Linked DNA regions of Homo sapiens. Each later gene encodes a partner of the first gene's protein in a complex. Each region holds a gene or a part of one and is shown in the gene's direction. Other genes may lie near its edges. The genes, in order: FGFR1, FGF2, PLCG2 and FGF23.

Region 1 (7,522 bases):
GTGGCCAGATGGTGACTGACTGCTGCTCCCTAACTCCAGGGGCCTGGGGCAAAAGGCTTGGCTGCCCACCTGCTCCCAGGACCTGTGAACCATCCACTTTGTAGGGAAAACCCCAGACAGTTCCCTCCTCCCGAATCCCCTTCTGCAACCAGCTCTCGGAGTGGAGACTCTGCCAGCTCTCACCACATCCTGGGGACTCTTGAAGCCTGGGCTGGAAGTTCTGCAACCTTGCCCCATGTCAATGGTGCTTACTTTACCTGACTTGTTCCATAACAAAGAATTGTTAATTCTGCAGTATCGACCCAGGGTAGTGGGGTGATCATTCCTGGTAGGCACAGCTGAGCCCTAAAATAACAGAACCCAGATAGAGCAGGGGCAGAAGGAATGTGGGGAGAGGGGAAGAGGAGCTCCCGTCTGCCAGGGAAAACTCTGAGGACACAAGTAGCTGGAGGAACAGGGAAGGGATTTCCTACAGTGTTCCCAAACAAAGAGAGCTGGCCGGGCTTTGGGGAGAGCTCCGTTTCCCTTCGTTTCATTCAGCAGTGGTCTCCTCCTCCCACAGATGTGGGAGGCAACAGGCCCCCAACCAGTTATCAGGCCCTCCAGCATGAGGGCCTTTGTCTCCCCTTAGACATGTAGCTGGCAGGGCGAAGGGCCGACAAATCCTCCCTGACCCTCCCAGCTCTTTGTTATCTCAGAGGGAAGGTTACATTTCTGTATGGGAGGCAAGGTGCCAGGAGGCCTCGGGCAGAACAGAGACAGGCAGAGCTGCTGTCTGACCCCTGTTGCCTGGAGCAGCTCAGGGCTGCCCTAGGGACACTCTCCCTCCACTGGCCTGGGGCCCTTCCAGAAATGGGAGGGCTACATTTCAGAAAGAGGGCGAGTAGAGGAGTGGGACAGAAAAGGAGCGAGGTGGGCTGGAAGGATAAAAGCAGCCAACTCTCAATTATTCAGAAACCTGTCTGCAGTGTGTGGACAGCCCATGCCTTTGCTGAGTTTCTCACCTTCTCTGTTCAGCTGCCATCAGCTCTTTCCCTGAGAAGTGGAGGAGGGACCCTGGCAAGTTGGCCACTTGCTTTCATTTTGGCTTCTTGATAAATCTATAGAGGATTTTTCAGCAGCAGGCCCATGTCCCTCAACCCCAAACAAGCATTTAGATCATTATCTTTCTGTTTAAATCAAGAACGCATTATTTAGCCTTTTATTTGGGGTTCAAGATACTCCTACAATGGTTCTAAATCATAAGAAAAAGGGGCTTGATTTAAAACCCCTTGTTTTGGGCCAGGAATGGTGGCTCACGCCTGTAATCCCAGCACTTTGGGAGGCCAAGGTGGGCAGATTACCTGAGGTCAGGAGTTCGAGACCAGCCTGGCCAACATGGTGAAACCCTGTCTCTACTAAAAATACAAAAATTAGCTGGGCATGGTGGCAGGTGTCTGTAATCCCAGCTACTCGGGAGGCTGAGGCAGGAGAATCGCTTGAGCCCAGAAGGCAGAGGTGAGCTGAGTGAGCTGAGATCGTGCCATTGCACTCCAGCCTGGGCAAAAAGAGCAAGACTCCATCTCAGGAAAAAAAAAAAAAAAGAAAACAAAAAAAACCCTTTTTTGAGAAGAATTACGGAGCAAAGTAGAAAAATAGTAGCTGGGTGTTAACATTAAATGCTGGATTTTTTTCATGGCTTGTCTTCCCAATCATATTCCCTCAAATTGTGTTTCCTCCTCTGGTAACCCAGGTTGGTTATGCTTAGCAAGTCCATGAACAATAAATATACATGGAAAACCTCCTGTGTAGAATTGGTCAGACACCTAGATAAGATCCTTGCCCTAAAGCAGTTTAGAAACCAGTTAGAAAGAAAGCAGAGTAAGGAAAACCACTAACAAAGCACGGTATCAACTCAGTGGATAGTCAGCAAGTGAGCAGGGGGTCCAGGGACTGACAAAGCTGGGATGGGCAGGGAAGGCCTCTTGGGGGTAGGGTGTGAGTATGGCCTTCTTACAAGCGTGTGATGTGTAGTAATTAAAATGCAGGAGGCCTAATGGGTGGGCAGCTTACATAGGAGTATAAACCAAGCTTGACCAGGAGCTGAAAGGTTAAATGGTGGCTCTTAGGGGAAAACCCTATAAACAGTGGCTGAAGTTCATTTATTCAACAAAGATATGAGTTCTTGTTTCTCATTTTTTGTTTTGTATTATTTTGTTTTGAGACAGGGTCTTACTCTGTCGCCCAGGCTGGAGTGTAGTGGCTGGATCATAGCTCACTGCAGCCTCAAACTCCTGGGCTCAAGCCATCCTCCTTCTTCAGCCTCCACCTCCAGCTAATTTTTAAAAATATTTTGTAGAGACAAGGGCTCACTTTGTTTCCCAGGCTGGTCTTGAACTTCTGGCTTCAAGTGATCCTCCCGCTTCGGCCACCCAAAGTGCTGGGATTACAGGCGTGAGCTGTAATTTAGTTGTTTATTTACTCATTTGTTCAACAAATACTTATTGAATATTTGCTCTTTGGCCAGTCAAGGGATTTCATGAGTGTCTACTATGTGAATAACACTGTGTTGGCCACTAGTCTGTCACCTACTGGTGGATTAGAAAAATAGCGCGAGGACCATTTTTTCTTTTCTTTTCTTTTTTTTTTTGAGACGGAGTCTTGCTCTGTTGCCAGGCTGGAGTGCAGTGGCACAATCTCGGCTCACTGCAACCTCCGCCTCCCGGGTTCAAGCGATTCCTCTGCCGCAGCCTCCCCAGTAGCTGGGATTACAGGCAAGCGCCACCATGCCTGGCTAATTTTTTTGTATTTTAGTAGAGACGGGGTTTCACCTTGTTGGCAAGGATAGTCTCGATCTCCCGACCTCGTGATCCACCCGCCTCGGCCTCCCAAAGTGCTGGGATTACAGGCATAAGCCACCGCACCCGGCCAACTCTTTTCTTAAATTAGCCAGGGAGGCGTGGGTGGGTTGGGTGAGGAGTTGGGTGGGGGGATCTCATTCAGTATTCAAACTTCTACAAGTTTCGGGGTTGAGGTGGGTGATGGTAAGGGAACAGGCCCTGCCACTACCTTTCATAGTGACTTCCATTTGTGTAATATTTTTGGTCCACTGAGAGCTATTATTTTATTTGATTCTTATGACCATCTTGTGAAGGAGTATCAACAGATACCCCGTTTTGATTTTATCAGATGCATGATTTGTCCTACATCAAACTTCATAAATGATGGACAGAATGGAGGAATCCTTCAGACCAAGTGCTGCCTACTTCCCACCCCAATGGTGGCCTCAGCCTGGGCTCACATCACACGCCCCAAGGAGCCTTGGAAAAAATAAAGGCTCTTGGCTCCTTCCTGGGACAGCGTGATTCCTCATGTCTGAGCAGGCCCATGAACTTGTATTTTTCAGACGTTCCCTAGGACCCGTGTCCATCTGGATTAGGGAACCACTACATTATACCACTTCGCGGGAAGACTCAGGGGGAAGCATTTTAGCCACTTTCCTGTGTTCCACAGTACTGGAGGGTGTTCTGAGTGGGCTGTGATTAATTTCCAAACCAACCACACGTCTCCCCTCAACTCCCACTGCTTACTCTTTGCTTCCTAGACATTCACTGCAGGCTGGAGACTTCTGGAAGCCAACAGCATCGCTGTAGAATTTACAGGGTCCAGTTCCCGGTGGACCACAAAACCTAAATTATGTGGCTGGGGAAAGCTGAAATCCAAGGGAAGGGTTTGAGGAGGGGCTGACCTTATAATAAAACCGGCTTGTATTTACTAAGTGTTAACTATGCGCTAGGCCCTCGTTGACGCCTCAACTCTATGTGAAAAGCACTATTATCCCCCATTTACAGATGGGAAAACAGAGATTTAGAGCGCGAAAATCATTTCCCCAAGGCGCACAGACTCCAAAGCCCACGCTACCAGGTACAACCTCAAGGCTGCGGCGTCTCTTCACCTGCCCCCTAGCCCCCAAACCGCTGCTATGTCTAGGGCCTGACATTCCGGCGCCCTCTGGGACGTGCTCAGATGCAGGGGCGCAAACGCCAAAGGAGACCAGGCTGTAGGAAGAGAAGGGCAGAGCGCCGGACAGCTCGGCCCGCTCCCCGTCCTTTGGGGCCGCGGCTGGGGAACTACAAGGCCCAGCAGGCAGCTGCAGGGGGCGGAGGCGGAGGAGGGACCAGCGCGGGTGGGAGTGAGAGAGCGAGCCCTCGCGCCCCGCCGGCGCATAGCGCTCGGAGCGCTCTTGCGGCCACAGGCGCGGCGTCCTCGGCGGCGGGCGGCAGCTAGCGGGAGCCGGGACGCCGGTGCAGCCGCAGCGCGCGGAGGAACCCGGGTGTGCCGGGAGCTGGGCGGCCACGTCCGGACGGGACCGAGACCCCTCGTAGCGCATTGCGGCGACCTCGCCTTCCCCGGCCGCGAGCGCGCCGCTGCTTGAAAAGCCGCGGAACCCAAGGACTTTTCTCCGGTCCGAGCTCGGGGCGCCCCGCAGGGCGCACGGTACCCGTGCTGCAGTCGGGCACGCCGCGGCGCCGGGGCCTCCGCAGGGCGATGGAGCCCGGTCTGCAAGGAAAGTGAGGCGCCGCCGCTGCGTTCTGGAGGAGGGGGGCACAAGGTCTGGAGACCCCGGGTGGCGGACGGGAGCCCTCCCCCCGCCCCGCCTCCGGGGCACCAGCTCCGGCTCCATTGTTCCCGCCCGGGCTGGAGGCGCCGAGCACCGAGCGCCGCCGGGAGTCGAGCGCCGGCCGCGGAGCTCTTGCGACCCCGCCAGGACCCGAACAGAGCCCGGGGGCGGCGGGCCGGAGCCGGGGACGCGGGCACACGCCCGCTCGCACAAGCCACGGCGGACTCTCCCGAGGCGGAACCTCCACGCCGAGCGAGGTAAGAGCCGCGGCGCCCCCGGATCTGGGGCGGGCTTGGCGTCCCGAGCGGCCCCCGGCGCCGGAGCCTCCCGGCTGCGCGCTTTGCCCGCCGCAGCCCAGCCGGGGCCGGCGCCTCCCTCCGCTCGCCGCCCGCCCCTTTCACCTCCTGGCTCCCTCCCGGGCGATCCGCGCCCCTTGGGTCTCCCCTCCCTTCCCTCCGTCCGCGTCTCCTGCGCCCCCTCCCTGCGCTCGTCCCGCCGCTCTTCCCGCCGCCCAACTTTTCCTCCAACTCGCGCTCGGGAGCTGGCGAGGCGGCGGCGGCTCCTCAGTGAGTCCCGGGAGGGACAGGCCCGGGGCGAAGGCGGCGAGGCCCGCGGTTTCCTGGACTGGGGAGGAGGGCGGGAGTGGGCGGCGAGGTGGGATGCGTTGTGTGTGTTATGTGTGTGTGTTGCATTCCACTCCATGTCTTTTTGGTCCCCTTTTGGGGATTCACCCCCAATTCAGCAGGTAGCTTTGGGCTCAACGCTAAAAATCCGGGGCATTCCTAAGTCCTTTTCCACCCCCGGGAAAGCCTGGGGTGCGGGTTGGGGTCGGATGGGGTGGGAGATGAACTGCGGAGGACGTGGAGGGCTAGGTTAGCTTCTCTTGGAATAGGTTTTAAGGAGGTGTCGTCACCAAATGGCTGAATCTGCTTGAGCTGAGAGCGAAAAACGACTCCCCTTTCCAGAAGGGGTGATCTTATGACTTGGACGGTCTCTGAAAGGGTCGGAAGTTTGGGGAACGGGAGGACAACCCACGGTCGTTAAGCCGAGGTGTGGGATGGGGGCGGAAGGACCGTTCGGTCCCAATCTGGTTCCTAGAGGTGGGGGAAGGGATGAGGGTTTTTGTCCGGTGTGGTTCACTCGGCAGCGATGCGTATGCTTCTCTGGCCCAGACCCCTCTGCACCTCGCTTCCCCTACCGTTATGTTTGGGGTTGGGAGAAAAGTGAGGCTACGACCCATGTTTGCGGAGGAATTTTATGGACCTTGTAGATGGGGGTTCATATAGAACACACACCCCCTATGAGGCAGCCAGACACTTTTTTGGTGGTGGTGGGGGGGGGGTGGGGTGTGAAGCCTGTTTCTTGTTCTGAGCCCAGAAGCTATCAACCCTTTTGAAAAACATTACCACGGTGCCTTTCTCCCCCAGCACTCCCCCACCCCCAATTTCCAGATGTAGCAGCCGCATCTGGTTCCGTTTCACCCCACACGGGTACACCGCAGCCGCATTATTAACTTCCCTCTTCCTCCCCTCCCCCTCCCCCAAATTAAAACTCAGATTCTTCAGCCTGTCTTGACCACCTCCCTCCTTAACATTTCTGGAGACTTGGAGATGCGGCGTTGAGATTCGGGGGAGAAAAGAAAGTTCCCTTGGATCCCGAGTTATTTAAGATCTCACCAAGTTATTCGCCGCCGCTGGTGGGTGGCGGCGGTCCGGGTGCTTTCTGGATTGCGCAGTAAAGAGGCATCTTGGGAGATGGGGCCAAGGTTTTAGGGGGTGCCACTCGCGAACGGTTCATCCGCTAGACTAGGGGGGCTCTTTGGCTGTGCGTCTGGCCAGAACTGGCCTTGACGATGGAAGTTTCTGGAACCAAAGCGTTGCTTTCTCTCCCTTGTGTTATAGCTGGAGCTGCGGGAGCGCCTGCCCTGCCCGGAGCCCGCGGTCCCCTCTCGGCTGCCCCGCGGTGGCGTCACGCGCCCCTCCCGGAGCAAGCCCGGTGCGCAGGGCCGGGGGCGTGGGCGGCTGCTGCCAGAGGCGCTCTCTGTGTGTTTTTAAGGACTGATTTGGGCCGCATCCCCCGGAAACTAAAGTGGGGTGTTTTACCGTTTAAATAACGGCTACAGGTTTGAAAGCGGGGTTGGATTTTCGAGTTGTGTTTGGTAATAGTCTTTGAGGCAGGAAAGCGCCTTGTGGTCCAAAGTTGCCGGGAGGGTGGGGAGAGTCGGTGTCTTACCCGCTTCTTTCCAGCCTCTTTCAAATTGAAAACACTTCTCTGGTTTCCTTCTTTGGGCGGTAGTTTTGGAGGCTGTAATGAAATCGCACTTTCTCTAGACGTGGTAATTAAGGTGACTGTTTCCTCCGCAGATGTGCCCTACCCTTTGCACCTCCGGACCAGCGCTTTTTTTGGAATACTATCTAGCCTTGAGACTGTTTAGCAGAAAGTGGCCATTTTCCTCCCTTGGCCCGGGCTCCCGGTTTCCTCCCTGAGGCTTGTTTAAAAGCGAAGTAGCAGGGCCCCGTGGGACGCGCCTTGGTCTGGGTAATCACCCCCACGCCCGGGTCATCCACCTTCCTCTCGGTGACCGAGGTTCAGCAGCCTCTGCTATTGCCGGCCGTCTTTGCCGATGGCCTGCCTCCCTAATGACTTGTTTACATATCCTACCCCCAGTGGGTTAGGAGAAGCTCCGGGGCTGCCCCGACCCTCCGAGTGCAGGGTGTTTGGGGACCGGGAGGCTGCTGGGGCCTGACTCCAGCTGGGAGGGTTATGAACTGCATCAGTGACGAGCTGCTTGAAATATCTGTTGCATTTACTCTTAGTCATAGCTGAGTGTCAGCTTTTTAATGAGGTTCATCCAGATTGAGAGCCACTTGGACTGCGTACTTCACTGCCTGCTTTTCCAAACATGCCTGCAGAAATGCTCAT
Region 2 (7,743 bases), on another chromosome or scaffold:
AGTTTTCGGTGATGAAAATAATGCATTCCTTCATTTGTCAAAAAAGAAACAAACAAGCAAACCAACTTACTGAGGCCCCACTTAGTGCCATTAGGTCCTTGGGATACAGCAATGTACAGGTCAGAAAGATCTCTGCTCTAAGTTTTCTTGTATTATATTAGGGGAAGGAAACTGATAATAAATACAAAAACAAACAAGATACAATTTTAGATGATAAGTTTATGTGATAGTGAGTAATTAGTTGTTTGCATAAAAAATTCTACCTTCCAAAATATCACTACAAATACTTTAGTGTTTCTCATTCTATTATGTGTATGAAAGCATATTAAATAAATGAGATACTATTATACAGTTTTGTAACCTACTTCTTTCAATTAACAATATACAATATTGCAAGAATTTTTTTCATGTTATTATATATTCTCCCACAAAACTGTTTATTTGGCTACATGGAACGTACTACTTCGAATGAATATAATGTAATTTATTCACATTAATCACCTAGATTATCCCTTATTTTTCCTCATTATGATCAAGGATATAATGAACATCCAGGTTAATAAATCTTGTGTACATCTATAATCGTTTCTTGAGAATAAATTTCTTACATCAAAACTGTTGCCTCAAATGGTTATTTAAATTTCAAAAATTGGGCCAGTCATGGTGACACATGCCTGTAATCCCAGCACTTTGGCATGCTGAGACTGGCAGATCGCATGACCCCAGGAGTTTGAGACCAACCTGGGCAACATGGTGAAACCTGTCTCTATAAAATATACAAAAGATTAGCCAGGCATGGTGGCATGCGCCTGTAGTCCCAGCAAACCTGGGAGGCTGAGGTAGGAGGACCACCTGAGCCCAGGAGGTCGAGGTTACAGTGACCCACGATTCTGCCAATGCACACCAGCTTGGGTTGACAGAGCGAGACCCTGTCTCAAAAAAGAAAAAAAATCAAAAATTAAAACTGTGATGTACCTTTTAAAATAGTTTTCCCAAAATGCTGTATAATTTAGCCTCCCTCTGACTGTCGATAAGGTCTTTGGTTCACCTCATCCTTAATAGCACTGGATGATATCTTTTTCCTCCCGACTTTATGGGAGAAAAAAACTCATTTTCATTTTGACATCTATTATTTTTCTTTCTCTTTTTTTGAAGATACAATTCATGTATCATGAAATTCACCATTTTAAAGTGTTCAATTCAATGGTTTTCAGTATATTCACAAAGTTGTGTAATAACCATCACCACTATCTAATTCCGGAACTCTTTTATAGGTCCCAAAGGAAATCCCATACTCATTAGCAGTCACTGCCCATTTCCCTCTCCTTCAGCCCTGGCAACCACTAAGCTGCTTTCTGTTTCTATGGATTTGCCTACCCTAGGCATCTCATATAAATGGAATCATATAACACCTGGCCTTTTCTGTCTTTTTCCACTGAGCATAATGTTTCCAAGCTTCATCCATGTTGTAGCACGTATCAGTAATTCATTTCTGTTTATTGCCAAATAACATTTCATTGTATGGATATACCACAATTGATTTATCCATTCATCATTTGATGGACATCTGGCTTGTTTCCACATTTTGGTTATTATGAATAAAGCTGCTATGAACATTTATGTACATGTTTTCATGTGAATATATGTTTCCAATTCTCTTGGCTACATACCTAGGAGTGGAATTGCTGGGTTGTCTGGTGACTCTGTTTAATTTTAGAGTTAACTGTCAGACTGTTTTTATATTGACTACATCATTTTACCTTTCCACCAGCAATGTTTGAGGGTTCCACTTTTACCACATCTTCAACACTTATTATTTTTTGTTGTTGTTATTTCTTAATTATAGCTATCCTAGTGGGTGTAAAGTAGTATCTCATTGTTGTTTTGATTTGTATTTCTCTAATGTCTAATGATGTTGAGCCCCTTGTCATGTGTTTATTGGCTATTTGTATATTTTCTTTGGAGAAGTGTCTGTTCAAATCTTTTCCCATTTGAAAATTAGATTATTTGTTTGAATTGTAGGGAATACAAGTTATTTTACTGCGTGTAGCTGCTCCCCAGGTTTCTGGATGCCATTGTTAAAAAATATCATGACTTAGATTTTATCCCCGTGCTCCTGGAATCCTCAGGTTTCTGTGACACAGAGTTCAAGTGAGAGTTCAATCATTCTAGGGACTACTCAGCACCACAGTAGCACCTACAGAGATCATCTGGAGGGAGTGATTTTGTCTCAACAGACGGATCTTCAATGAAGATGAAACAAATCCATTTTGGAGAGAGATGTTAGAGAACTGATGGCGTTCAGGACATGCTACCCAAAAATAATGGTACCTTGGCACTTAAGAAAAGAGCAGAAGCAAGAGGGTTACTTTCACTTTCCCCAGATCTTCTCTTCTGAGGCAGACCATAAGACCTTCATTCCAGAGGTGCCTTCCCTATACCTGGAGGAAACAGACATCCTTATCTCTGAAGACACACGGACAGGGAAAAGAATCTGAGCAAATAGGCCTTGCTAAGTAAGTCCCCCCAGTTTATTACCATTAGATCACAGATTTGTCCAATCATACTTCTCCATGACTTCCACTTCTTTATCAATCCTAGCCTTAAAAATACACAGGCTTCCCTCTTAACTTTGGGTCTTAATTTCTGAAGTCTCCTGTTTTGTGTAAAACTCACATAAATAAGTTAGTATGTTTTTCTCTTGTTAATGTGTCTTTTGTTACAGGGGCTTCAGCCATAAACCTAGTAATGAATGGGGAAATTTTTTTTTTCCTCCTCTATAGAACATATACCAACTGCAAGAAGAAAGAAGAATATGCCTGGTTTTGGGCCTGGCGCGGTGGCTCACGCCTGTAATCCCAGTACTATGGGAGGCTGAGGCGGGCAGATCACCTGAGGTTGGGAGTTCGAGACCAGCCTGACCAACATGGAGAAACCCCGTCTCTACTAAAAATACAAAAAATTAGCCCTGCGTGGTGGTGGCGCATGCCTGTAATCCCAGCTATTCGGTAGGCTGAAGTAGGAGAATCGCTTGAACCCAGGAGGTGGAGGTTGCGGTGAGCCGAGATCGTGCCATTGATCTCCAGCCTGGGCAACAAGAGCAAAACTCTGTCTAAAAAAAATAAATAAATAATAAAAATAAAAACAGTATGCCTGGTTTTAAAGCTTCAAAGAATTTACTCATTCTCCTGTATGTAACATTCTAGAAATGCATCTGGAGTTAAAGCCTTCTTGGAGACTTAAGAACAAATGCACTTATGCATGGCCTTTTGAAACCTAATGTTTCTACAAGGAGGCACGTCCATACTTGCAACTCCTTCTAGAAGCTTCCCCAAATCTCCTGCCTCCCCACGCTGAGTTATCCGATGTCTGAAATGTCACAGCACTTAGTCTTACTCTTCTATGGCCTACTTTCTACTGCTATTTGTGTTACTCATGCTACCCATCTTATCTCCCTCAGTGTGTGAGACGCTGGCATCAGATTTGGCATCTCCCACACACTCAACATTATGTGTTGCACACAGTAGGTACTCAATACATGCAAGTTTTCTGAATAGATATTTTCCTAGTCATCTGTGGCACCTGCTATATCCTACTGAAAATTACCAAAATGCAATTAACTTCAATTTTACATTTGGGATTTACAGAAAATAACTCTCTCTCCAAGAAATGCATAACAATTTAGCTAGGGCAAATGCCAGGTCCGAGTTAAGACATTAATGCGCTTCGATCGCGATAAGGATTTATCCTTATCCCCATCCTCATCTTTCTGCGTCGTCTAATTCAAGATAGGTCAGTAAAGGAAACCTTTTCGTTTTAGCAACCCAATCTGCTCCCCTTCTCTGGCCTCTTTCTCTCCTTTTGTTGGTAGACGACTTCAGCCTCTGTCCTTTAATTTTAAAGTTTATGCCCCACTTGTACCCCTCGTCTTTTGGTGATTTAGAGATTTTCAAAGCCTGCTCTGACACAGACTCTTCCTTGGATTGCAACTTCTCTACTTTGGGGTGGAAACGGCTTCTCCGTTTTGAAACGCTAGCGGGGAAAAAATGGGGGAGAAAGTTGAGTTTAAACTTTTAAAAGTTGAGTCACGGCTGGTTGCGCAGCAAAAGCCCCGCAGTGTGGAGAAAGCCTAAACGTGGTTTGGGTGGTGCGGGGGTTGGGCGGGGGTGACTTTTGGGGGATAAGGGGCGGTGGAGCCCAGGGAATGCCAAAGCCCTGCCGCGGCCTCCGACGCGCGCCCCCCGCCCCTCGCCTCTCCCCCGCCCCCGACTGAGGCCGGGCTCCCCGCCGGACTGATGTCGCGCGCTTGCGTGTTGTGGCCGAACCGCCGAACTCAGAGGCCGGCCCCAGAAAACCCGAGCGAGTAGGGGGCGGCGCGCAGGAGGGAGGAGAACTGGGGGCGCGGGAGGCTGGTGGGTGTGGGGGGTGGAGATGTAGAAGATGTGACGCCGCGGCCCGGCGGGTGCCAGATTAGCGGACGCGGTGCCCGCGGTTGCAACGGGATCCCGGGCGCTGCAGCTTGGGAGGCGGCTCTCCCCAGGCGGCGTCCGCGGAGACACCCATCCGTGAACCCCAGGTCCCGGGCCGCCGGCTCGCCGCGCACCAGGGGCCGGCGGACAGAAGAGCGGCCGAGCGGCTCGAGGCTGGGGGACCGCGGGCGCGGCCGCGCGCTGCCGGGCGGGAGGCTGGGGGGCCGGGGCCGGGGCCGTGCCCCGGAGCGGGTCGGAGGCCGGGGCCGGGGCCGGGGGACGGCGGCTCCCCGCGCGGCTCCAGCGGCTCGGGGATCCCGGCCGGGCCCCGCAGGGACCATGGCAGCCGGGAGCATCACCACGCTGCCCGCCTTGCCCGAGGATGGCGGCAGCGGCGCCTTCCCGCCCGGCCACTTCAAGGACCCCAAGCGGCTGTACTGCAAAAACGGGGGCTTCTTCCTGCGCATCCACCCCGACGGCCGAGTTGACGGGGTCCGGGAGAAGAGCGACCCTCACAGTGAGTGCCGACCCGCTCTCTCCGCCTCATTTCCATTTCGTGGGTTCTCGCCCGCTCTCTCCCCTCCAGCCTGCACCCTCCTCCCGGATCTTCACTGCGACCCTAGCGCTCCGTGTGGTTTCTGGCCGCGCGGCCCTCGGCGGTTTCGGGTTCACCACTCACCCCCTCCTTTCCGGGCTGCGGCGTAGGCCCGGGTGTCCCCTGGGCTTTGGGGTGTGCCAATTTGCCCTGTAAACCAGTACCCCCGGCCCGGAGCCGCGGCGCGCCGGGGCCTCGCGGACTGGCTGTCTTCCCGCGGACAACCTGTCGCGTCGGGGATGCCCGCGGCCCCGCCATGCAGCTCTGGCCGCTTCTATCTGCTGCGTGCTGTCCCGGGGACAAAGACAGGAAGGACCGCAGCAGAACGAAACGGTCTTTACTGGAAAAACACCTTTCTAGAGTCCTGCCCTTAAATTCCGACTCGGGACGACCCGAGGCATATGGCACACTACTCTCACCCACTCTGTTTTATATTTTTCCGAATTGACGAAAGCTGAAAGAGCAAAAACAAAAACCAACCAGCCAACCAGCAAAAAATCCAGATGTTGTTAATAAAGTGCCATAGCTTTGTTTCAGTAGTGAAAAGAAGTGCAAACACTTTAATCTTCCACCTGCAGTGACTAGCTTTGAGACCTTGAGCCGACGCTTAACCCCAGAGCCGGTTTCCTCATCGCTCACGTGGGGCTAATATATTACTACCTTGCAGCAGGCTTGAGGATGAAATGAGAATTGCAGTTTTGCTTTCTGTAAGAAACAATGTTTGTGGTTCTAGAAAGAACACTGGCCTAAATAAGGAGTGCTTGGACTTTAGGGGATTCCCTAAGTCTGGAGTGGGGGCTGAAGATTTGCATTTCTAACATGTTCCCCGGGGATGCTGATCACATCACACTTTGAGAGCCACTGGTCTAGAGGAAAGAGAAAGAAAGGGGCATAAGATGAGCCGATTTACAACACTGATGGAATTTGAAGTGAGAGAAAGAGGACTAGAATATATTGTAACCTGTCCTCCTGTAAGTGTATGTAAACATGTGTTTTAAAAGCTGTGTGTTATGGCGTTCCTTCCTTTATGGGTTCCAGGTGGAGAATCTGATTCTCTCATTGCCTGAGAAAAGACCCACAGGGGTCCCAGCGCCACTCCCCTGTAGTTCTGCCTTTGTCTTGGGATGCTAATGGGATGTCATGAGGGGAGGTGGAGGGGGGCTGGAAGAGAAGAAAATTCTACAACCAAACGTGAATTGGCAGAAGAATGGGCAATACACTTTCATATGAGCTGAGTCTTTATTGCTTCCAAAATAGCAACCTGCAAGAGAGGCAAGTATTTAATTTTTTTCAGGCTTGCCATAATTTAAAAATTTTATCAATCACTTAATCCCGTAAAACTGAAAAGATGCTTGTAACCTATTAGATGGGTTAGTGCTAGTTCTCTATTCTGGTAACTTGAACTCATCTATTTCAAAAAATTATCTTTGTGATTGAAGTTTGTTCTGCAGTTGTCTGCTACGCCATCTCAGCTGACAAGGGCAAGGTGCTGTGTGTCCCAATTGGTTTTGTTCTTTCTAGTATCACAAATTATTTATTAAAAAGCATGTATTATGACCAGAAGACAGAAGAATTTCCCTTTAAATTAAATTAATATTTGGGGCTTCCCCTAATACTCTTTTTTTTTCAGACTCTATTAGTTGCTGAATCATTTTTTCTTTGAAGATTTTGATACCCGATTCGCCTTAGAATAAAACTATGTAGAGGTTAGCCAGTGGACATAATTTTGAATTGCATACCACATTACCACCGTTGTAAAAACAACCGTTAACTTTTTCTTCCTAACTGTGAGTTGGGTTTTCATTTTTGTAATCTTACTTTAACTCTGTGGTTCTCAAATGGGGACGATTTTGCCTCCCAGGGGACATTTGACAATGCCTGGAGACATTTTTGGTTGCTGTAACCTGGAAGGGTGCTACTGGCATCTGGCAGGTAGAGGCCGGGGATGCTGCTGAACATCCTACAATACACATTATAATACCCTCAACAAAAACATTTTTGACCCCAAATGTCACTAGTACTCAGGTTGAGAACTCTGCTAACTTTATAACTAGCTAAGGACAAGACATTAAAAGGGAAATGTAGAATAACTCATCCAGACTTGTGGAGACTACCAATTTTTTTAAAATTTTTTATTTCTATAGGGTTTTAGGGACCAGGTGGTAGTTGGTTACATGAGTAAGTTCTTTAGTGGTGATTTGTGAAATTTTGTTGCACCCATCACCCAAGCAGTATACACTGAATCCAGTTTGTAGTCCTGTCCCTCCCCAACTTCCCACCCTTTCTTCCCAAGTCCCCAAAGAGACTACTCTTTTTTTAAAGGATACCTGTACCAGGCAATAGACTGACAAGAATACAAATCTAAAAATGACAAATTTCATCTATTTCTATGTAGCCCAACCTGGACATAAATTTAAGTACAGTATATTATTTTCTCACATATTGGATGTTTACTGATAGTTGACCAAACCATGAGGAGACCCCCCAAAACAAATAAAACTGACCAGAAAACATGGAGAAGAGTTAATAGTAGCCACAGTTTCCTACTACATTATGGCTCAGATTTCTAGACCTGTTTGAAAAGTTGAAAAATCTATGGTCTCATTCCTCAGACTGTTTTGTCCAACTGACCTGAACATCTGTCACTGGAATTTTTTTTCCTTTGGCATGACACTTTGT
Region 3 (6,582 bases), on another chromosome or scaffold:
GCATGGTGGCTCATGCCTGTAATCCCAGCACTTTGGGAGGCTGAGGAGGTTGGATCACCTGAGGTCAGGAGTTCAAGACCAGCGTGCCCAACATGGAGAAACCCTGTCTCTACTAAAAATACAAAAATTAGCTGGGCATGGTCGTGGGCGCCTGTAATCCCAGCTACTTGGGAGGCTGAGGCAGGAGAATCATTTCAACCTGGGAGGCAGAGGTTGCAGTGAGCCGAGATCACACCATTGCACTCCAGCCTGGGCACCAGAGGGAGACTCTGTCAAACAAACAAACAAACAAACAAACAAAAAATCCTTTGGCACCCTTGACTCTAGTTCTCTTTGTTCTAGAAATTAACCTACAGTAATACCTTAGGCGCTTGCCACTTCCCCTAAGTAGAACTGTTTCCTCTAGAAGGACACTTCAATTTAATAGCGAAAATAAATGATGACCACTGACTTTTAAGGAGTACTTATTGTGTTTCCAAGAATGGGCTAGTCCAGCGGCTCTAGACTGGGTCAAGATCCCCCAACAGGGATGCTTGTGGTTGTGCTACAGGCATGTAATGGGGTGCGGGGCGGCCGGGGTTGCCAAGTGTTTCATAATATGTCTAAATCTTCTAAGAAAGAATCATCCAGACAAAAATCCTAATAGTAGCCACCAACGAGAAACTGTGCTGCCTCCCTTACTCACATTATTCTCATTGAATCTTCATGTCAGCCTGCAGAGTAGCTCTTACTCTGTTTTACCATTGAGGAGATTTAACCTCTCTGAGTCTCAACGTCTTACCAGGAACTTGGAGTCTGCCTCTCTGACACTCAGCCCTATACCATCCAGCTATGAATGACTGGCAAATGTACAGAAAGAGAAATGTTACAGAGTTCAGCACGCAGCCCATTTCTCATGGCCCACTGCTGATGGTGAAATCTGTTTTATTTCAGGTTAAGAGAGAAGAGAGTCAGCAACAGCAAGTTTTACTCATAGAAGCTGGGGTATGTGTGTAAGGGTATTGTGTGTGTGCGCATGTGTGTTTGCATGTAGGAGAACGTGCCCTATTCACACTCTGGGAAGACGCTAATCTGTGACATCTTTTCTTCAAGCCTGCCATCAAGGACATTTCTTAAGACCCAACTGGCATGAGTTGGGGTAATTTCCTATTATTTTCATCTTGGACAACTTTCTTAACTTATATTCTTTATAGAGGATTCCCCAAAATGTGCTCCTCATTTTTGGCCTCTCATGTTCCAAACCTCATTGAATAAAAGCAATGAAAACCTTGATCAATTAAGCCTTCTGTTGCACGACCTGTGCAGTGAACAGGATTTCTTTTCTGGCCAAGAAGATTCTACCTCTAATGATCCAGGTAACTGATGTCCATGGAGGATGAGCTGGAAATGTAAGAAACTATTCATGAGATTCTGAAAAGGATTTTAACTCAAAGGCAAATGATTCCATAAGGGCCCAAAGAGAAGCCCTACCCACAGGCAGCCTGCTCAGTTCAATGTACTTTAACTACCACCGGCTGCCTGCTGCAGTCCACAAGAAAATGGCTGAGTGATGGGATCTGTTCATTAAGACAATTTCTAATTAATGGTGACAGCTTGTTTTGTGACTAGAGTTACTGGGATGGAGGGTAGGAATCTTGGGGCCTCTTTGTTTTAAAAAGCCCATCAGAGAGACCAGAGCCGTGCTGCAGGGGCAGGTTCTCACTTGCCCCTGGCTCTGCCAGCTGCTGGGAGGCTCTGGCCCCACTAGTCCCTCATGGCCCTACTGAACTGGCTGGGAGGCTGCTGGAATGGCCCTTGGTCCACAGCTCTCCACAGGCAAGAGGTCAACTGCTGCTTGAAAGAGGTAGACAAAAGTTAGGTTGATGGCGAAATGTCTCTGGGTTACCCAGTCTTCTGGAGCAGCAAGCTGAGCTTTAATGGGCTAAGCATTAGGGTGTTACAGAAAATTTCAAATGCAGCCATCTCCCTTGGGGCAGATCTACCTAGTTCATGACAGTATGTGCGGCTGGCCAGGGCTTTACACCTCTGCATCTTAAGTTGTTAATACATACCAATAATGTAATATGGCTTTTTAAAGGAGAGGAGAGTGCTGGGTTGGGAAGGGAGGTGGTTGGTAGAGTCACAACTTCTCAATGAGTGAATTTACAGCTGATGGGAAAAGGAGTGTAACTGTGAAAAACGATGGCTGTGGTGGGGAAGAACAAACCAGCAGTAAGCCTGATGTTTGATGTGGATGGAACTGGCCCCTAGAAACCCATCTGACCCTCCTCTTGTTACCCGAAATGCTGGGCTTAGTATGCATGTACTGCTGAAAAGCAGGGCAGAACAAATCAGGCTCTGACCAGAAGATCCTTCTGGTCCCTTCACTCTACAAAAACTTACTGATCACCTCCACATGCCAAATACAGTGCCAAGATTTGGGGGTGTGGATGTTTAAACAAAAAGCTGTGGGTCTCATCAATCATCTCCATCCACAAGCTCCTAAAAGAAAGCCATTTACCTCGCTTGAAGCCAGGAACACAGGGAACAGCAGTCTGGCCAAGGAAGGGCTGTTATCTGGTGCTATCACTCCAGTTACTCCTCCAACTGGGAGCTGCTATTTTATTTGGCAGTCAGCAACTGAAGAAAGAACATTCCTCTTAGTGGCAGATGTTCAAAGCAACTTTCAAGAAAGGCTAGGTGAGAAAGGCACTGGGATGAGTGCTGCAGGCACTCTGTAGCCAGGGCCCCATTAGCCTTTGGCCAGGTAGCCACCAGAACCTATTTATTGCACCTGGCATCTCCCCCAACCCCTCTCAGCTCTGTTAGGACTTCCACACAGCAGAGCTCAGGTGTTGCTGTCATTACCTCCTTTCAGCTCCTCACTTCATTCTACTTTAAAGCCACAGTGCTAAGGCCTGCATCCCCTTTCTGCCCAAATGGGTTTTTTGCTACCATATCAAAGAACCTGACATATGGCGGCATAGGAAGCAGAAGCTAAGCCTCTCTCCAGCTGCTGCTGTGTAAAATCCATGCGTGGCCAAAGAGAAGTCAGGGGATTATGACATAAATGGTGCTGGGAAGAACCCTCTGCCTAAAACTGTCTCCTTCTCCTGGTGCTACAACCGGAATCCACCATGAGAGAGTACTTTCTTCGGTTCTTTCCTCCTGTCCTTGACAGAGTAACACGTTAATCTGGTTCTTGGTGGTGTTAGGGACTGATTCTCTCAGGAAAGGCACACATGGTATGATGGCTCTTCCCAGAGTCTATGTGATGCTACATAACTTCAGTATCTAGCTGAGACATGCTTCCTACATGACTGTTAAAGCACAGCCAATCCAGGCCAAGAAGACTAGTAACAGGCACATTCTGAAAGATGGAAGCAGCACTGATAGATCAAAACCACCACTGCATATGTATTACACTGTTTTTGTTCACCATTTTCCTAAGTGTGTTATTTAGAATATTGGTTATTACAAGGAAAAATAAAGTGGGGAGGCTGGTTAGGCCTTGTGAGTTTGGGAAACTTAGGTTATAAAAACTAAATAAAGTTTTTCTACTGTGAGACTAGATGTGCAGGAGTGAAAGGTGTAGAGGGTCTTGTTTTCCAAATTCGATCTCAGAATCTTTTTGCCAGAAGTGTCTCATGGGACTTATCTATAGTGGAACACATTTGAAGACCTACTGCTCTATTAAGAAGGCAGCCGGACAACATGTTCTAATACTTCGTATGCTTTGTGACCTAGTTAAAATCTAAACTTAAGTCGCCATGGCCAGTGGCCTTTAGATTAAGCTAGCCTTACCCCTGGGAGTATACCAGAGCTTTCCAAGGAATACACAGACTCCAGTACTCTCAGGGGAGCAGTGTTCAGAGCCTCATCTTCCTGTTATATTCTTCTCTAAGATTCATCTGCCTGAGAAAATGCCCTTTTCTCACCTTACAAAAGAAAATATGGCTGTCTCCACCTCTAGTCTTACTGTAGAGCATGTCCCAAGGTGTAAAAATTCAAAATGTGGATATTTGGAAAGTGAAAGACTTATCAACAGGGCACAAATCTTTTTGCAAATGGATTTTCCAAGTTTTTCTGGTGGTTCCAAATTTTTTGCTTTCAACAAAGTGGGAGGAACAGCCTGTAGATTTCTGAGTCTCTTAGCATGTAACTACAAAGGGGTTGGAAGAATTCAGTGATTCTGCTATCATAAAGCTTCCGTTCCCATTGATGTATCTGTGTGAACAAGGATCAACATCTCCATAAATGAAATTGAAAACGGAAAATAGAATTGATGATGAACTTTGGCTCAATCTTAAGATGTTATCAATCTACATAGATGAAATAATTGTGGAGAAAAGCCCTCTTTATCTCATTAAGTGATACATTTCCAAAGAAGTTTTACTATGTTTAATAATTTAGTGAAATTTGGGCTATGTGTTTATTGATTCAGCTCAATCCAGAGGAAAATTTTAAAGGCTTACAGCCTTAGGATTATAGGATACTATATAATACTTTTGGTACAGAGATAGAATTAAATAACATAAAAATCAAAAATTTATTAGGCTAAAATTTTGAGGGAGAAGTGGTATGAAAATACAAATTCAAGGAGTAAAAGGAAAAGTGGGGCATTCCTTGCTACTAAAAATTGCCTTGTTCCAGGTAAGACTGATCATAAAAAAATGGCCCTGTTCATAAAATTTTTAAAAAGATCATAGTATCTATCAAATAACTTATATTAAGAACCTCCTGGGCTAAATTTAAAAAGTAATACAACAGTTTTATTTAAACATGTAGTGTCTACGGTATGCCAGCACTTTGCAGCTATTTATAATGAGAAATTTTAGATGTCAATATAGCAATGTGCAAGAAGATAGAGATTTTCAAAATTCACTTAAGAGTATCTGAGCATAAAATGTTAAGATTGCTGATCGGATGTGAGGGCGATCTGGCTGCGACATCTGTCACCCCATTGATCGCCAGGGTTGATTCGGCTGATCTGGCTGGCTAGGTGGGTGTCCCCTTCCTACCTCACCGCTCCATGTGCGTCCCTCCCGAAGCTGCGCGCTCCGTCGAAGAGGACGACCAACCCCGATAGAGGAGGACCGGTCTTCGGTCAAGGGTATACGAGTAGCTGCGCTCCCCTGCTGGAACCTCCAAACAAGCTCTCAAGATTGCTGATCTAGGGCCACTAAGTGATGAATTGTATTTGGAAGCAAAAAGGATGGCTAAAAAGGACCTCAACCCTTTTGACTTTAAAAGGAAAATAGCTTAACCTTCAACCTGTGTGACATTTAACTTTTTGAACCCAACCGTAAAAGCTATCTTCTAACCAACAAAAAGTTAATAATTAGATTTGGAATTATACAGAATTAGAAAATTGGCATTTAAAAATACTCAATAATTTGTCCCTGGTTTTTAATTTTCAAAATATTTTCTTTTTGAAGAGCCAGATTCCAGTGATCCTGCCTCTCAGAAATTTCCACATTTCTTATTTTTCATTAGGCCTTAAGAAGCTGCATTTGTAAACTTGTGTTTCATTATTAAAGCTTAATTTATTTTTTATATAAATAGTATGTGCTTTGTGTACATAGAGAATTAAGTGAATGAGTCACACAGATGTTGGCTGTTGTTAATGTGAAAATTAAACAGCTGTATCACATTTTGAAAAATAAAAGTTTCATCTGAATGAATATAGCAATCTGCCCAGAACTTTTTTTAAAAACTGCTATTCACCTTTTATATTCCCAAATAAAACACACACACACATACAATAATTTAGTCATGAGATAGGTAGAGTTACAGTTATTTTTTGAAATGTGTTTTACTATCCTATTTATCCCACGTTTCTTTGGGTTACAGGTTTATCTTCAGCAAAAACTCACTCTGTGTTGAAACTCAAGTTTGTACGATTAATACTTGAGTGCTCTTCAATTTATCAGTTTTGAAAGAATGTTTAGTGTTGGAAGGAGCGAGGACCTTATAGTAAGTCCCTGTATTTCTCAGCTGAGTGATAGGCTCCCTAGAACTGTCAATCACTGCGTTTCTTGCCAACAATCCCTGGTCCACAGGAAGCCATGTTGTATCTCATACCTCTGACCCCCAACCCCCAGCCCCCAGTGGTTGGATTAGTTACCCTGGTCCAAAGATTTAATAATAGCCTATGACAAACCTCTGCATTAGAAGATGAGCAAGGAATAGTAAAAAGCAAAGATGAAATTAGAACTGCCAAATGACCACTTTTTAAATGGATACAACCATAACTCTCATAAAGATATATAATGAACATATGTCAGAAATCTTATTAATTAACAAAGGAACCAGTGAGATGTTCCAGCTTGTTTAAAGGAGAATGCAGAGAACAATATATATACATACAGTATAGGTTATCCGCTATCCAGATTATCTGATTTTATACGGTTTCTCCACGTTTTATTGTCCGAATAATGCAAATTATTCCTGTCCGTAGAAATGCAAACTGTGTCCTGTGGAGATTCCATTGATCATTCCCTTGTGGATACTGATCACTGGTTTTACCAGTTTTATATCTATTAAATTTATTTCAGCATCGCTGATGGATGTGAAATCTGACTCCTATCTTACTCCACACAC
Region 4 (8,453 bases), on another chromosome or scaffold:
CCTGCCCATAGGACTGTTTTGAGCCTCAGAAGAGACAATAGATATGAGTGTACTTTATGGGCTGTGAAGTGCTAGACAAATACAAAGAATATTCTGCCTAGTAGATTGCAAATTCCCTGAAGATCAGGACTGTACCTTTTCATTCTCAGACTTCTCTAAAGATTTTCTACAAGGTAGTAGCCATATAACAGGCTTTCCATAAAAAGTTATGTGTTGATTGCTTGGATGCATTAAAGCAAGAGAGAATCAGATTGGCTATAGGGAAGCACATTTTTGCTGTCAAGATGACACTGGGATGACATTTTCAGATGAGATACAGGAATGGCACCTCTCCAGAGAACTTCAAGAAGCCAAAAAAAAAAAATTTTTGTTCTAGATGGCTTAGATATCCATCTCCCTGAACGCTGGAGGTCTGGACGACATGTAATGCTCTGAGAAAGCAAGAGGGCAGGGACACCGTTACTGAAATGGTGGAGACAGACTCAGGAGGAGTGAAGGGACAGGGAGCAGAGGCCTGCCAGGTCCTTCCAGGATCTCAAAAAGAAAAGAAGGCTGCAAGCCACCGTGAGATCACCTTCTCTCCTATCTCCCAGCTTTTTTTTTTACCTTGATTCCTCTGACATTTTTTCATCATAGCTAAGGACAATGAAGTTGATGTTATTGTTTGAAAATTATTGCCCAGTCTTTACTTTGAGTGAACATGATCTGGGTGAGAATCTTCTTCAGTACCTTCTCAGAGCAGATGCTGATAAAAAGAAGTCAGGAGATGAAGGAAAGTAATGAACTTGCAGGAATACTTTTTTTTTTTTTTTTGACAGGGTCTTATTCTGTCACCCAGGATGGAGTGCAGTGGTGCAATCTCAGCTCACTGCAACCTCTGCCTCCCAGGTTCGAGCAATTCTCCTGCCTCAGCCTCTCGAGCAGCACGCTCGAGAGGCACGCACTCATGCTCGGCTAATTTTTGTATTTTTGTAGAGACAGGGTTTCACCATGTTGCCCAGGCTGATCTCAAATTCCTGACCTCAGGTGATCTGCCCGCCTCAGCCTCCCAAAGTGCTGGGATTACAGGCATGAGCCACTGCGCCCAGCCGGAATACAGATTCTTATAGGCCCTTATCTATACTAAGAGCCTTGATTCTATGAGCGTAAATGCAGGGACTAGACTTGATGCTTCCACACAGCTCCCGGGGCAAATTCTCTTAATGCCAGAGAAGTGGGTTCCAAACCAGGCTGGAGACAACAGGTTTCCCTGCCTGCCATGGGACCAGCCTATCTGCTGCATTCAGGTAGCTACCTGGGAACCAAGGACAGTGACGTCCAAACAGCACAAACCCAGGGCCTCCTCCCTGGGCTTCCTGTTCACAGCTGGTATCTATCTGTGTTTCTCTTTGGGCTCCTAAGGTCACACTGGTTCCCAGACCCTTGGACCTGAACTGTGACGGAGGAGTGCCCTCTAGGTGCAAAGGACAGGAACCGACATGTCCTGGCCTCTCCCTTCTCTTACCCACTGAAGCTTCAGAGGAGACCATGCACTGGACTCAAGGACAGGGTACTTGTCAGCACGAGGTACTGATTTAGCATTCAGTACTAAATTCCCTAGAAAGGCCCATTTACATCTTGACCTGCAGTTAGGATGGACATCCTAGAAGGGAACGGAAAGTTGAGCCTGCCACTGAAGAGGGCCTTAGTCTCTGTGTACTATTTCCAGTGCTTGATGTGTGGTTGGCGCTCAAAGCCTGTTTATTGATAAGTACTTTAGTATCAGCCACATCTGGTGTGGAGAATTAGAATCTCCCAGGTGGCTTTGAATAAAGTACAAATAACTGACTTTTGCCCCTGCAGATTCAGTAGGTCTAAGATTAGTCCTGGGGCAATTATGGCTTTAAAGCTCCACAGGTAATTCCAGTGAGCAGCCAGATTTGGAAGCCACTGGTAGGGAGTTCAGCCTGGAGCTGGACATTCTGCTGTCTCCGTGTTCCAATGGGCAAATCTTCATCTCCGCTCTCAGTGTTTCCCTATCTCAAATGGGGAGAATTAATCTGAGATTCTTGCGCCTTCCTTTACTCTCTCTAAGTGGGAAATGCTGCTTCTCCTCCCATCCTCCTTAAAAATAAGTCTACTCCTCTGGGCTGGACTCTGCCATTAGAGCCAGATGCTAAGCACACAGGGCTTCTTCTTGGAGGGGAGGCTTTGGACCTGGGTAAGCTGGCACAGGGCTCTCTTTCCTAATAAGACAAGCTGAGGTGGCCACGGAGGAGCCCCTTCCCCAGTCGCTCCAGGAGCTAGGGGAATGACCGAATGGCTGTGGACTTATCCCAAGACACCTGTGCTCCCTCTCCATCATGCTTGGCAGGTGCTGGGGAAAACCCTTCTCTGTGTATCCTACAAAGCTCCCTCAGTTCTCTCCTTCCCTCAAAGCCCTCCTTGACCACAGCATCTACCCACCATGACCTTTTTTTTTTTTTTTTTTGGTGACAGATCCTCGCCCTGTCATCCAGGCTGGAGTGCAGTGGTGCAATCTCAACTCACTGCAATCTCCACCTCCCAGTTCAAGTGATTCTCCTGCCTCAGCCTCCCAGGTAGCTGAGATTACACAATACGCCCAGCTAATTTTTTTGTATTTTTAATAGAGACAGGGTTTCTACTAAACGGGGTTTAGACAGGGTTTCACCGTGTTGGCCAGGCTGGTCTCGAACTCCTGACCTCAAGTGATCTGCCCACCTCGGCCCCCCAAAGTGCTGGGATTACAGGCATGAACCACCACGCCTGGTCAACATTTCTTTTTTGTGAAGGAGCTTGGTAAAAAAGTGCAGGCAGCAAAGCACTCCTCCATGATTCTCTCGGAAACCCAGGTCTTTACCCGGGGTGAATCTCTAGGGTACATAGTGCTTGTCTCCCCAGGGTTGTTTGGAAGATGTATGACATTAAATGTTTATGTATAAAGCAGGCTTCTTTAGTAATGGCCACAGAATGGTTTATAAATATAGTACCACATCTTCACTAATTTGCTCCTAGTAATGAAGCTCCTCCCACACAGTGCCTTGTATTGAACGAAGATGTTCCCTGCTCAGTTACACTGGGAGCCCCTAGAGGAGTTAGTCCTGCTTTGTAGTCCTACACCCTCCCTTTCATCTCTTACATGGAGAAGGTTCTCAATGGCTGCTGATTGCCTTATAATTACTTCCCATCTCTTTACCTTTCACAACCAGAATAAGAAATGCAGGGCAAATGTTCCTAAGTGATTTGCATCTCAATTCTGAAAGCTAGCTATTTCTTCAATTAGCTAAGACGTAGCATTATATTTATAATCCATTCTGTGGCTATTAGTAAAGAAGACTGTTTTACATATAAACATTTCATGTCATACTTCTTCCACTCAACCCTGGGGAGACAAGCACCATGTGTCCTAGAGATTCATCCTGGGTAAAAGCCTGGGTTTTTAGAGAATAACAGAGGACTGCTTTGCCACCTGCACTTTTTTACCAAGCTCCTGGCTCTCATGGCTTTAGCTCTAACATGTTGTATGGGTTTGGACACCTTGAAAAGTGCTTAGGAGGTCTTGGGGCCAGACCTGGATTCAAATCCAACCTCTTCCACATGTTACCTTTCTATCTCTAGGCAAGTTACTTAAACTGTGTGCATAGATCAGTTTCCTGATCTATATAAAGAAAATAACAGCATCTCCTCAAAGAGTTATTCTGAAGATGAAATGGGTTACTACAAGTAAAGCACTTAGAGCAGTAAGTGGAACAGTAAGCTCTCCATGAGCGTTAGTTCTTGCTGTGATTCTTTGGAGAAGCAGCCTAGGGAAGGAGAAGACCTTGTCCTGGCTCTACCATTTATTTGCTTTGTGCCTTTGGACATGGAAACACTAAGATTTCCATTTCTTCATGTAAAGTATTAAAATCTTGATAATGCATGGAGTGCCTATCTCACAGAGTGGCAGTGAGGTTCAAATAAGCTAATAGATGTGAAAATGCTTTGTAAACTATAAAAAAAAACTGTACAAATGTAGGGTAACAAATGCCATCTCTTTCTGTCTATACCTGTAAGCTTGCACTCATTTTGTATTATAGTTACTTATTTTTATCTGCCTCCTGCATTAGATTTGAGCTCCTCAAGATAGGAATCACATCTTGCTGTCTCCTATATCAACCTGTACATGAGTCTAGCTTGATGCCTGTACATGGCATATACTCAGTACAGGGAAACTGGAAGAATAGCAAACTCCTTGTGTGTTTTTTCGGGTGTGTGTTCCAGTAGCTTGCTCCCCTTTAGACTGTATGTGCCAGGACTATTCCACCCGACATCAGGTGTAGCTTCCCAGAGGGCTCACTGTGAACAGCATCTGCAGGCAGGCATCCAACACCAAGCTGAGCACTCATGTACAGACACTAAATGTGGGGACACCCTGTCCTGAGGCTCGGATCCCCAGTGCTCAGCCAGCAGCTGTTCCAATCCCCATGAGGTCTCTGAATGAGTCTCCTTACTACTGGAGAGACTACTAGTTTAGTTGCCCTCGATAGTCCAAACTAGGGAAATTGAGAAATTGAACCTTGGCATATTCAGTGAAGTCCAGACTAAGGAAGCTGAGAAACTGAACCTTGGCATGTTCACTGACCTCAAGGCCTTACTTCTTTTTCTTCCATTTCAAAATCTTCCCAAAATGGCAACTTTGGCTTTTGTGCCCCTGCTCCTAGCTCCCATCTTTCATGAAGTGGGTGTTCTTAGAGGATGCCATCTGCCTGATGGTGTCATGTATCTCTATATCCTGCAAGCTACCCACCAAATCCTGCTCACAGATTAAGCACTGGATACATACTTGCTGATTGGAATTTAAAGAAAACCAAAATAAGTAAACTCGACAGGAGATTAATTGCCTAGGAGTCGGTTGACTGCTTGACTGAAGCTGGATTTTTTTTGGGAACCGCTGGCTGCCTTCACATTTCCTGATGGAAGTGGGACAGGTCAACAGACAGCCCAGAGTGGCAGATAACTTTTGCCCACACGTCATTCATTTTTTGGAGCGTTGGCTTGAAATTGAGGGGTGTGTGTGTCTGGAACCGACGTGCCTTCCGTGCGCCTCCGGGGTCTTTGCACTTTCTTTCAATGGGCTGATTACAACACAGAGGATGTGGACAGTGGAGTTTTTCCTGTTTGATGTCACACTGCTACCCTTTAAAAGTCTGACGGCAAAAAGGAGGGAATCCAGTCTAGGATCCTCACACCAGCTACTTGCAAGGGAGAAGGAAAAGGCCAGTAAGGCCTGGGCCAGGAGAGTCCCGACAGGAGTGTCAGGTTTCAATCTCAGCACCAGCCACTCAGAGCAGGGCACGATGTTGGGGGCCCGCCTCAGGCTCTGGGTCTGTGCCTTGTGCAGCGTCTGCAGCATGAGCGTCCTCAGAGCCTATCCCAATGCCTCCCCACTGCTCGGCTCCAGCTGGGGTGGCCTGATCCACCTGTACACAGCCACAGCCAGGAACAGCTACCACCTGCAGATCCACAAGAATGGCCATGTGGATGGCGCACCCCATCAGACCATCTACAGTGAGTAGGGCTTCAGGCTGGGAAGAAGGGGAGCACCCTTGTTGTCCATCTACAGGAGGCTTGGGGAGGTTGGGGACTAGACTGGAGGGCTAATCCAACCCTCCTAGCTTTCTGCCCAGGAACCACTTATTGTCTTTGTGTGTGTGTGTGTTTGTGTGTGTGTGTGTGTGCGTGTGTATTTAAAACTTAGGGGAAGATTCTGTCACTCTCCTAATTAGCATTTGCTGGTTTTTCTCAATATGAATAATTTTTATTTCAACTAAAACCCTTCCCACAGTAGGAGCCATGTTCCCTTTGCCCCGTCAAAAGATTGAAAAAATGTACAGAAAGAAAGGCAAGGAGTCTAAGAGAAAAAGAAGCCAGGCAGATCAACAGACACTAAGTTTCAGCTCATGGACTTTGGACTGGGTTAACTAGGGAGGTTGTAAAGATTCCTGGGTCATACCCAGATTGTTATAGATAAATCTGGGGGCTCTTTCCAACTCTGGCCTTATAAAAATTCTTGGAAAAATGTATTAAAGACAGACTGTCCATGTATGTTGTCTTGGTGAGAATGGCCAAGTATACAACCCATCCACCCATTCATTTGTCCATGCATCCATCCATCCATCCATCCATCCATCCATCCATCCATCCATCCATCCATCCAACAGGTTTAATGGGTGTTTCAGACACCCAGGTACCCAGGTACCCAGTATGAGTTGGTGATTCTTCTCTGTGGAACTGAAAGGTGTCCAGTCAGTAGCAAGTCAAGCTAGTTAGAAACTTATTGGCAACATGAGACAACTGGAATGTTTTTAAAGATCAGGTTTGTGGAGAATTGGATCACAATCCACAATAATCAATCCATTAGCAATGATTCAAATGAGGGTCCCTTTGTGTGCACCTATATAAGGGGTAATGTGGTGAAAGCAGGGATAGATATTGAAAAAGACTGGATCTTCTATTTTAAGAAAACGTGAGAAAACACCTCAAAGCATACAGAAAAATGCAAACTGATCCAATATAGCTCAAATTAAAGGAAAGAAAAATTAGTTAGACAATCTCTAACTAAAGAAAACATAGGAATTATGATTTGCCCTTTATTGTTGTAATAAATAAATTAATTATTTTTGCTGTGACCTTGCTGTGTGTGAGGCATTTATTCTTCTAGGCTCCAAAGGTCCTTAAACCTGGTTGCAAGATATACAACATGCAAAATTAAGTTGCAAGATATATAACATGCGAAATTGACAGTTTAACCTCTTCAAGTACTAAATGCATATTGACAGGAGATAAAAGGAGAGAGGAAAGTTCTCTCCGAATACCAAACAGGTTCCAGAACTCCAGAGAATATAGTAAGACTCAGGAGTCAACATCTTGGAAACCAAGTTTGAGTCTCATGGCAAAAATTTCAATTAAATCTGGATACACTTGATGCACCCGAAGTGTTGTTCATTTTATTCAATGGATATTTAATAGGATCTACCATGTGCCTGGCATTCTACCAAGCGCTGTGGCTGAAAACTAAGACACAACCCTTCAAGGACCTCATGGTCTGTCGTCCTACCTTGTCAGCCAGCTCACTACCAGACTTTCAGGAAATGCAATTTTGCATGTCTCATGGAGGGGACACCCTTACTCTAATTCAAGACTATATGTGGGCCAGGTGTGGTGGCTCACGCCTGTAATCCCAGCACTCTGGGAGGCCGAGGCAGGCAGATCACGAGGTCAGGAGATTGAGACCATCCTGGCTAACACAGTGAAACCCCATCTCTACTAAAAATACAAAAAATTAGCCAGGCGTGGTGGCAGGCGCCTGTAGTCCCAGCTACTTGGGAGGCTGAGGCAGGAGAATGGCGTGAACCCGGGAGGCAGAGCTTGCAGTGAGCCGAGATTGCGCCACTGCACTCCAGCCTGGGTGACAGAGCGAGACTCCATCTCAAAAAAAAAAAAAAAAAAAAAAAAAAGACTATATGTGATTTAAAATGCAGAATAGTAGATTATGGTAAATTATTTTGATTCTCTTAGATGGAAAGGGCTGCATCCAACTAGAGAATGTTTATACAACTTGTCTCGAATCCTGGAATCCCGTTGCTGAAAGGAACTCCTTAAAGACGTTTCTTCCTGAACAAGAATTAGGGTAGAACAGAACAGGCCGGCTACGGTGGGGAGTGAGTGTGAAGAGTCAACCTCCTGGGCTGGCAGTCTGAACTTAGACCTTTTCCTTGAAAGCCCACCTCGTATCAGGCCCCAAGGGATCACTGAGTGCTAGTTAGAGTGAATTAAAATGACTGAGAAGCAGCAAAATAAATTGAACTGACTTCAGATTTTTAAAAATAGAAATGTGATTTTGTTTCCTTAGACATAGGCACTAGCTAAACATTGCATCTTTAAAGAGTTAAACATGAATGCGGGGAGGGGAACTTCGGGTCAGGGTAGTGGGAGGGAGATCTACTTTTCCTAGTCTATGTAGATAACTTTTTGTACTGTTCAATGAGTTGTCATGTGTATTATGGGAAAAAAAAAGTGCAGGAAAAAATTACACACTACAATTAAAAGTTACCCAAAAGAGGCCAGATGCGGTGGCTCACGCGTATAATCTCAGCACTTTGGGAGGCCGAGGTGGGAGGATCACTTGAAGTCAGGGGTTCGAGACCAGTCTGGCCAACATGGGGAAACCCTGTCTCTACTAAAAATACAAAAATTAGTGGGGTGTGGTGCCTGCCTGTAGTCACAGCTACTTGGGAGGCTGAGGCAGAAGAATCGCTTGTACCCCAGAGGTGGAGCTTGCAGTGAGCTGAGATCGCACCACTGTGCTCCAGCCTGGGTGACAGAGTGAGACTCCGTCTCAAAAAAAAAACGTTACCCAAAAGAAAGAGGAAAGATTAATGCATGTAGATAAGAAGCACAACTAATTAAATGTC

The links.
Region 2: the proteins of FGFR1 (region 1) and FGF2 are in contact, whole or in part, in a crystal structure (PDB 1CVS), measured with the Homo sapiens proteins. Residues at the interface, in NP_075598.2 of Homo sapiens: Glu162, Lys163, Leu165, His166, Ala167, Val168, Pro169, Ala170, Asp246, Val248, Arg250, Ser251, Pro252, Val279, Ser281, Asp282, Pro283, Gln284, Pro285, His286, Ile287, Ala314, Gly315, Val316, Thr319, Asp320, Glu324, Gly344, Asn345, Ser346; in NP_001997.5 of Homo sapiens: His158, Phe159, Lys160, Lys163, Tyr166, Gly170, Phe173, Arg186, Lys188, Leu197, Gln198, Ala199, Glu200, Glu201, Arg202, Gly203, Val205, Ser206, Tyr215, Val230, Glu238, Leu240, Asn243, Asn244, Tyr245, Asn246, Leu282, Pro283, Met284.
Region 3: the proteins of FGFR1 (region 1) and PLCG2 are in contact, whole or in part, in a cryo-EM structure (PDB 8JQI), measured with the Homo sapiens proteins. Residues at the interface, in NP_075598.2 of Homo sapiens: Lys504, Asn506, His541, Lys542, Lys598, Ser602, Tyr605, Gln606, Arg609, Glu612, Tyr613, Ser616, Lys617, Lys748, Asp755, Arg756, Val758, Ser762, Gln764, Glu765, Tyr766, Leu767, Asp768, Leu769; in NP_001412678.1 of Homo sapiens: Phe528, Arg540, Thr568, Phe569, Pro570, Asn571, Phe577, His585, Cys586, Arg587, Arg589, Ser590, Thr591, Met592, Gly595, Leu601, Thr602, Asn604, Leu622, Arg623, Cys624, Ala625, Glu626, Phe627, Glu738.
Region 4: the proteins of FGFR1 (region 1) and FGF23 are in contact, whole or in part, in a cryo-EM structure (PDB 7YSH), measured with the Homo sapiens proteins. Residues at the interface, in NP_075598.2 of Homo sapiens: Glu159, Lys160, Glu162, Lys163, Lys164, Leu165, His166, Ala167, Val168, Pro169, Lys172, Gln244, Asp246, Val248, Glu249, Arg250, Ser251, Pro252, Val279, Tyr280, Ser281, Asp282, Pro283, Gln284, Pro285, His286, Ile287, Ala314, Gly315, Val316; in NP_065689.1 of Homo sapiens: Leu31 (codon at 5,427), Leu32 (codon at 5,430), Gly33 (codon at 5,433), Ser34 (codon at 5,436), Trp36 (codon at 5,442), Gly37 (codon at 5,445), Tyr43 (codon at 5,463), Ala45 (codon at 5,469), Thr46 (codon at 5,472), Ala47 (codon at 5,475), Arg48 (codon at 5,478), Asn49 (codon at 5,481), Ser50 (codon at 5,484), His52 (codon at 5,490), His66 (codon at 5,532), Ile75, Arg76, Ser77, Glu78, Asp79, Ala80, Gly81, Val83, Val84, Tyr93, Phe108, His117, Gln118, Thr119, Asn122.

The regions. Positions count from the first base shown.
Region 1 is NC_000008.11:38,465,316-38,472,837, reverse strand, and holds the start of FGFR1 (fibroblast growth factor receptor 1 isoform 1 precursor), read left to right. Parts: upstream 1-4,202; 5' UTR 4,203-4,857; intron 4,858-5,113; exon of another isoform or gene 5,114-5,166; intron 5,167-7,522. UniProt on the Homo sapiens protein: Tyrosine-protein kinase that acts as a cell-surface receptor for fibroblast growth factors and plays an essential role in the regulation of embryonic development, cell proliferation, differentiation and migration.
Region 2 is NC_000004.12:122,822,367-122,830,109, forward strand, and holds the start of FGF2 (fibroblast growth factor 2 isoform 18 kDa), read left to right. Parts: upstream 1-4,808; coding exon 4,809-4,986; intron 4,987-7,743. UniProt on the Homo sapiens protein: Acts as a ligand for FGFR1, FGFR2, FGFR3 and FGFR4. Also acts as an integrin ligand which is required for FGF2 signaling. Binds to integrin ITGAV:ITGB3.
Region 3 is NC_000016.10:81,957,023-81,963,604, forward strand, and holds the end of PLCG2 (1-phosphatidylinositol 4,5-bisphosphate phosphodiesterase gamma-2), read left to right. Parts: intron 1-933; coding exon 934-976; 3' UTR 977-5,663; downstream 5,664-6,582. UniProt on the Homo sapiens protein: The production of the second messenger molecules diacylglycerol (DAG) and inositol 1,4,5-trisphosphate (IP3) is mediated by activated phosphatidylinositol-specific phospholipase C enzymes. It is a crucial enzyme in transmembrane signaling.
Region 4 is NC_000012.12:4,376,466-4,384,918, reverse strand, and holds the start of FGF23 (fibroblast growth factor 23 precursor), read left to right. Parts: upstream 1-5,206; 5' UTR 5,207-5,336; coding exon 5,337-5,547; intron 5,548-8,453. UniProt on the Homo sapiens protein: Regulator of phosphate homeostasis. Inhibits renal tubular phosphate transport by reducing SLC34A1 levels. Up-regulates EGR1 expression in the presence of KL. Acts directly on the parathyroid to decrease PTH secretion. Regulator of vitamin-D metabolism.